Linked DNA regions of Homo sapiens. The protein of the gene in region 1 purifies or fractionates together with the protein of each later gene. This does not show direct contact. Each region holds a gene or a part of one and is shown on either strand. Other genes may lie near its edges.

The links.
Region 2: the proteins of GBP5 (region 1) and ACSM1 purify together in Homo sapiens (affinity purification with mass spectrometry; 2 studies listed by BioGRID and IntAct, with this or other methods). This does not show direct contact.

What each region holds. Positions count from the first base shown.
Region 1 is NC_000001.11:89,259,275-89,263,098, forward strand, and holds part of GBP5 (guanylate-binding protein 5), read right to left. Parts: intron 3,512-3,824; coding exon 3,409-3,511; intron 3,128-3,408; coding exon 2,946-3,127; intron 1,544-2,945; coding exon 1,430-1,543; 3' UTR 1-1,429.
Region 2 is NC_000016.10:20,624,446-20,628,269, forward strand, and holds part of ACSM1 (acyl-coenzyme A synthetase ACSM1, mitochondrial), read right to left. Parts: intron 2,872-3,824; coding exon 2,744-2,871; intron 2,646-2,743; coding exon of another isoform or gene 2,631-2,645; exon of another isoform or gene 2,278-2,630; intron 1,078-2,277; coding exon 978-1,077; intron 1-977. UniProt on the Homo sapiens protein: Catalyzes the activation of fatty acids by CoA to produce an acyl-CoA, the first step in fatty acid metabolism.

The DNA.
Region 1 (3,824 bases):
AAAAGGCTTCTTCTTTAGCCCTTAAGCCTATGACACAATTTCCATGCTGGTAATTCCTTTCATCTTCTGAAGAATCTCTATTTTATTATAACATTATTGGCTTTCAGCTTGGAATTTCTCTACGCAGATTGTCTATTGACAGTGCCAAGGAAACATCTCACTGTCCACAGAATAGCAGCCTCCACCCAGTTGAAAGCTGCACATTGTTTCCACTTTACCATTGGTACTTCCCTCTGATGGCATCCAGCACACGACCATTAGCCTGAGTGATGCCCAACTGAGCCCAGACTTTGGTCAAGTTCCTTCCGACTGAGCCCAGTTAGGGACACCCTGCCCCCAGAGGAATATAACAAGCCCCCTCCCCTAGCTGCCCTGCAGCTTATTTTTCGTCCAAAAGGTCGCCCCCACCGCAAGTTCCCAGAACTTAGGTGCCACTATAACCACCCCTAAGCTAAACCACATCCTGGTACCCTGAGCCAGGCGGGGGCAAAAACTGACAAACTGCAGGATGTGGCCATACTGGGAGGAAAAGTCTCCACAAATGGCCTTGCCCCCCCGACACCCCCGCACACACACACAAAACCCCTGCAGACCTACTTATACCCCTTAGCCTGTAAGCCCGGTGTCTGCCTCCTCAGATTTCTGTAGAGCAGCCCAGCAGGTTAATAAATTTGCTTGCCGACTTTGGGTCTTCTTGTCCTTTCTCTTGGCTAACCTTATAAGCCCATGTGCATAACTCCCTCTAGGTCAGCGGTCCCCCAACCTATTTGGCATCAGGGACCAGTTTCGTGGAAGGTAATTTTTCCACAGAGGGTTGGCGGGGGTTGGAGGTGGGGTGGCGTTATTGGTTTCTGGTTTATATTGTTCCACAAGGATCACACAACCTAGATCTTTTGCATGCACAGTTCACAATAGGGTTCCCACTCCTGTGAGAATCTAATGTCACTGCTGATCTGACAGGAGGTGGAGCTCAGGCTGTAATGCTCACTTACCTGCTGCTCACCTCCTGCTGTGTGGCCGGGTTCCTAAGAGGCCACAGATCAGAGCTAGTCTATGGCCTGAGGGTTGGGAAGCCCTGCTCTAGGTAACATAATCCCCTTATGAGAAATTAGACAGATGACATTGAGATGCAAGGAAAGCATCTCCTGATGAAACCATCCCAATATCACGCATAAATGAAGGCAGTGATACAATGTCCCTTATACAATTTATAATCTCTTAAAGGAAGCAATAAACATTTAAACTATTGGACTACTGGGATGTACATTTTACCAGATACCAGCATCATAATCTTATAACTCTATATGAAAGTTTGAAAAAATAATTATAAAGTTTATTTAAATGTTGATTGTCCCAAGGTCTACAGTTTCTTTTCTGTTGTGTCATCAGTGACAAAGAGTAAAAAAAGGAAACTCCCATATTTAGCACTTTAGAGTAAAACACATGGATCATCGTTATTAACAGTCCTCTGGGCGTGCTGGAGCTCACTGAGAAGGCTTCTATTTTGAGCTTGGAATGTTGTGCTGAGCTGTGCAGCCTGTTCCTAAAGAGTGATAAATAGAAAGTAAGATCAAGCTTCTTACTGATTGCCTAAATCACTCACTTGTCCTTACTTCTTTTCATCTACAGTAGCAGTAAACAGTTCCTGAATATCTCTCTTCCATTCACGTGCATCTAACCTATTTCTGTAATTATTCACCCTCCTTGTCTTTCTCTAGCTCCAGAAATGGTCATTTCTCATCCCTGGAATATTGGTGTCCCTAGGATTCCAAACCAAAGCTCCCTTCCCCCTTAAACCACACGATCTCCTTGGGCAATCTTAGTCACATCTTGACTTCAATTCTCATACACACACAGGAGACTCTCAGATATATTTCTAAGAGAAGAGGCTGATACAAAAACAGTGTATCTAAGTGACATCGGAATCAGGTGGGCTGTCCAATCTTTACATACATAAGAGAATTTGTTCCAGGTCACCACAGAAGTAGGAGAAAAGAGTGAATACATAAATAACCACATGCTGCTCATACTGCTCTTTAGGAAGGAGCTGCAATCAGAAATATTTTAGAGTAACTTCTGAAAAACTAGTACCTACAAACTGGCAAGCCAAGGGGAAGAATTAGGATGTCATTTGTCTCATTAGGGTGCTGACATAGGAATTTTACACCAGGTCTGAAGAAGCAAAAACACTGCAGATTCCACTCATTTGGAAGGCAGTTTTGTTAATGTGCTAGGCTTGTGTGATATTTGCATTGATTATCTCTTTGAAACCCCACTTATCTCATCTGAAAAATGAGGACACAGTAGTTCTGCTTTACAGTGAATGGATTAGATGAGATAATGCATGTAAAGTGCTATGACAGTGACTGATAAATAATAACTACTGGAGAGTGCTTGGTAACTACTGACAGTGATTGGTAAATAAAAGTAAAGGACCGGATGAAACAAACTGGCAAATTAAAGGCCTTCAGAACAGAGATGATCAAGGCAAGAACAGGGGCATAGACACAGTAACATGAAATCAGATTAACAAAGTATCTATGACCAAAGCAAAAGATCATCCAGGACAATTAACAAGTCAACAGGAAAGACCAGTTACTGCAGCCCAGAAATGCCTTGGTTTTTATTTAACAACATATAGTGCTTACTCTGTATCGGGCACCATTTAAACACAAATATTAACTCATTTAATTATCAAAATAACCCTATAACATAGATATCATCACTGTGTCCATTTTACACAAGAGGAAAATTAGGCACAGAGGTGATAGATAACTTGCCTAAACCATATACTTACTAAGAGGTGGAGCTTGGATTCATACCCAGACTTTCTGGCTCCAGACTCCCTGCTGAGAGCCACAAGATCTTGCTGCCTCTCCCTCTTTGCCACTGCTACATACTCTCATCGTTACAGGCAGGGGAGAGATGAAACAATTGATGAATACCTGCATCTGTTGTTCCTGCATTTTCTGTTGCTCTGCCAGCCAATTTTGTTTGGCTATCTCCATTTGTCTCACTTGTTCCTGATGGAGTCTCTCCCTCTCCTGCATCATTTGCTCGTTCTGCCTTTGAATCGCCGCCAACCTTTGCGCTTCAGCCTTTTCAGCTTCTGCTTTCACTTGTGCCTCTGAGGAGAAAAAGATAATCTTCTCTAGGATTAATGTGCCTCTTCCTTCTGCCTCCCACTTTTGTTTGTGATTGTTCCAACTTCCTGGATAAAATTCCCAGGGGTTGTTTTTCCCTTCCAGGTAACCACAATGCAGGATCATGCCAGTCAGATATGCTTGAGGAGCTAAGAAGCATCTTTGCCATTCTTGCTCTAGTTTAACATCCCATGAGGGCCAGGCCAAATTTATTTAAAATTTATAGATTTCTTTCTATCTTGCATAATTTCCACTTTCTTCTCACCTTTCTTCTTTTTTTCCGTCTCTGTGAGAGCCTGGTCAGTCTGTAATATTGCATGACTCACAGACTCCTTGGACTTTAAATATTTCTGCAGAACTTCTTCAGCCTAGCAACCCGGAAAACATGCAGTTAGATGCAGGAAATGGTGATTAGGAATGTTGTAAACATCTTTGTCTTGTTCCTTCCAGCAGCATCTATTCCTCATAGGAGAGGCTTGCCATAGGAGAGGCTCCATAGGAGAGGTGGAGCCTATACAGGCTTCCACCCTGCACTTGGTGGAACTGCCAATTGAGACTGGAGAGGCTTGTGGAACACCTGCTCCTGTCACAAGTTTGGCCATGACTCCATGGTCAGTCAGAGCATGCAAGTCCACTAGATGCAAAGGACTTGTTCACAGGGAGAAAAATACTGCAAAGAGT
Region 2 (3,824 bases), on another chromosome or scaffold:
AAGCTTCCATTCTTCATTTGGTTTCTTTAAAGCTTCCATGAGATAATACATATAAAACATCCAGCTAGTTTACTTTTATTATTACTCCCGTCATCAATATTTTCATCATCATTTTTACTGTTATTATATATGTAATTCAGTGCCAGAAACCCAATGGGCATTCCATAATTACTGGCAATTTATTATTTTTAGATTAGCAATGTTATCCAAGTTTTATTGCACAAGGTCTCACATATAGAAGGTGATTAATAAAGACTTTTTTTTTTCAGATGGAGTTTCATTCTTGTCGCCCAGACTGGCGTGCAGTGGTGTGATCTTGGCTCACTGCAACCTCAGCCTCCCAGGTTCAAGCGATTCTCCTGCCTCAGCCTCTCAAGTAGCTGGGACTACAGGCGCCCACCCCCCATTCCACCCACCTGCCCCCACCACACCTGGCTAATTTTTTTTGTATTTTTAGTAGAGGTGGGGTTTCACCATGTTGGCCAGCCTGGTCTTGAACTCCTGACCTCAGGTGATCGGTCCACCTCAGCCTCCCAAAACATTGGAATTACAGGCATGAGCCACCGTGCCCGGCCTAATAACACTTTTCAATATACAAATGCATGTATGTTCGGGAGCCACATTGCTGAGATGCCATTCTGCCTCCACCCCTTACTCTAGCTGGGTGATGTGGAGAGGTTACTTAACCTCCTCCTGCTTCTCTTTCCTCATCTATAAAAAGCATAAGTGTTCTTAGATTACTACATTGTGTGAGAGTTAAGTGATTTGGCATATATAAGTGCTCATTACATAGTATCTAGCATCCTTTTATTCAGAGCCACAGAGAGTCCACACTGTCCCCTGGTGCCATACCGTGTAAACGCACATGCACACTATGCCCTTCCACCAAGGCTGCACAGGTAAAGCCTGGATGTTTCCCCTGCACCTGCTTTCCTAGTGCCCACGCACAGACATGATGATCTCTGTGTTCTCCTCACCTCCCCTCGAATCGGGTCTGGGCTGCCCACCACGGCTGACTCCGCCACCGCTGGGTGCTCCACCAAAGCGCTTTCAACCTCTGCAGGCCCGATGCGATACCTGGAGGATGAAGGGTTCTGAGGCAGATGCCAGGGCTGGGGTGAACCAAGTCCCCAGATCTCCTGCTTTGGAGTCACAGCTTCCTTTGGCACAGAGGGTGGAGGTCATAGGAAGCCAGGGACCCCTGACTTGTCTGTGTCATGGGCCCAAAGTGTAAAGACCTGGACATTATAGGCTGAGAAATACAAGACTGCGGTGCTCCCGGCTTCTTGCCTCACTGCCTGTACTGATGGAGGACGGCTAATGTTTTGTCTCCTCAGAGCTTGGCCCAAGCAGCTTCCCCCAACACGAAATCTCTTGGAAGCCTCAAACTTGGTCTTAAACATTCATGCAAATTCTGCATACTATTTCCCATTGTATCAGCAGGATTTTCGGCTTTTATTATATATACTTAAGGCTTACAACATGATGTTTTGATGTACATATACATAGTAACGCGATTAAAACACTCAAGCACACTAGCATATCCATCGTCTCACATAATTGCCTTTTTTTTCTTTTGTGGTAAGAACATAAAATCTACTCTTTGTGCAAATTTCCAGTACATCATGTTTTAGAAATTTAAAATAAAATCCCATCCAGGCTGGGCATGGTGGCTCACACCTGTAATTTTAGCACTGTGGGAGGCTGAAACAGGGGGATCAATGGAGGTCAGGAGTTCAAGACCAGGCTGGCCAAGATGGTGAAACCCCATCTCTACTAAAAGTATAAAAATTAGCTGGACATGCTCACTTGAAGCCAGGAAGCAGAGCTTGCAGTGAACCAAGATCAGGCCACTGCACTCCAGCCTGGGTGACAGTGGGAGACTCTGTCTCAGAAAAATAAAATAAAATAAAATAAAATAAAAAATAAAATAAAAAAATAAAAATGCCATCAATTTCTCTAAAATATCCAAGGGAAATTGTTACTGTAGTGTAATGCGCCTTTTTAAAAATCATGTAGGGGTAGGGACAGGGACTCAGAGCCAGACTACCTCAGTTCAAATCTGGATTGCATCCTGTGCTATCTTTGAATCTTTAGGCAAATTTCCTTGCCGGTCAGTGACCCACTTTCCTCGTTAGTAAAATAGGGATAATAATCACATCTCCCATCCAGCTTTGAGAGGTGGGTTATATAAAGCATTAAGGACAGTGTTTTCACATAGTAAGTACTCCAGGTTAGCTAAATAGTTACAGTAAATAATATATTTATACTAATAAATAATTTTATAATAATAGATTTATTATGCTCATAGATGTATAACAAATATATTCATAATAATAAAAATAAACAATAGCTAAAGGTTAGCTATTATTATTACTATGTTTGTCCTGTGACATTTGGTGCTGCATTAGAGGGGCACAAACATGAAATAGGCTCCCTGAACCTATGGAGACCAAGACAGAGTCTCCCTTCTCAATTCCACTCCCCCCACCCCACTGTAAATTGCACAGTGTCTTATTATGGCTCCTCTTCCAGACCCTCTTGAATTTCATTTTGCTTGATTCTTCTGCGTGCAGAGAAGGTTCGGGAGGTATACTGAAGCCTGGAATCAGGGCACCATAGACACGGCTCTATTCAGATTTAGGCTGAAATTTCACCAATGCGTGAAAAAATGTCTAGGTAAGCAAAATTCCGTGAGGCATGTGACGGCAACAACAGCCAGCCCAGCATCAGCCACACCTACCCAGAGGCATTAATGATGTCATCACTCCTCCCCAGGAAACAAATGTAGCCCTCTTCATCCATCTTACCTCTGTCCCCAGTGTTGTAGAAGTCCCCACATTCCACTTTAGCTGTCTTCTCTGGGTCACCCTGCAAAAAGAAGAGAGCTCCTTTGTTGAAGGCAGTGAATTTAGAGGTGATGAGCCACAACCTTGGGTTCCAATCTGGGTTTGAATTCTGCCTCTGTTTCTACTCGGTACCTGGGCAAGTTTTGCCATTTCTGAGTCTATTTTCATTACATGTAGCGCATGATGCATGCGACTGCTCTATGAGTGGTTGTGATTAAACCAATTTCAATGACAATGTTTAAAAATATCAATTCTGCCACGTGCGGTGGCTCACGCCTGTAATCCCAACACTTTGGGAGGCTGAGGTGGGTGGATCATGAGGTCAGGAGTTCAAGGCCAGCCTGCCCAACATAGTGAAACCCCATCTCTACTAAAAATACAAAAATTAGCTGGGCATGGTGGTGCATGCCTGTAATCCCAGCTACTGGGGAGGCTGAGGCAGGAGAATCGCTTGAACCTGGGAGGTGGAGGTTGCAGTGAGCCAAGATCGCGCCACTGCAATCCAGCTTGGGCAACAGAGTGAGACTTCATCTCTCTCTCTCTCTCTCTCTCTCTCTCTCTCTCTGTATGTATACATATATATATATATATATATATATATATATATATATATATATATATATATATATTCATTTTGTGTGACACTACACTAGAATGAAATTTCCATTATGGTGTGAACCTTGCTTACTGCTATAAGCTCAGCATTCACATAGAGCCTGGACAGATGAGAGGGGTCAATAAACATTTGCTGAGGGAATTTTCTTCCCTAAATACTATCTCATTTCATCCTCACAGAAAGCCTATGAGTCTAGTATGTTTTTAAGTTAACTTTTCATTTTAAGACAAATGTGGATGGCATGTAGTTATAAAAAATAATGTGGATCGATGCCCTGTACTCTTCACTAGTTTTCCACAGTGGTACCATCTTGCAAAACCATATGATCAGTATCTTAGGCAGAATACTGACCTTGATAC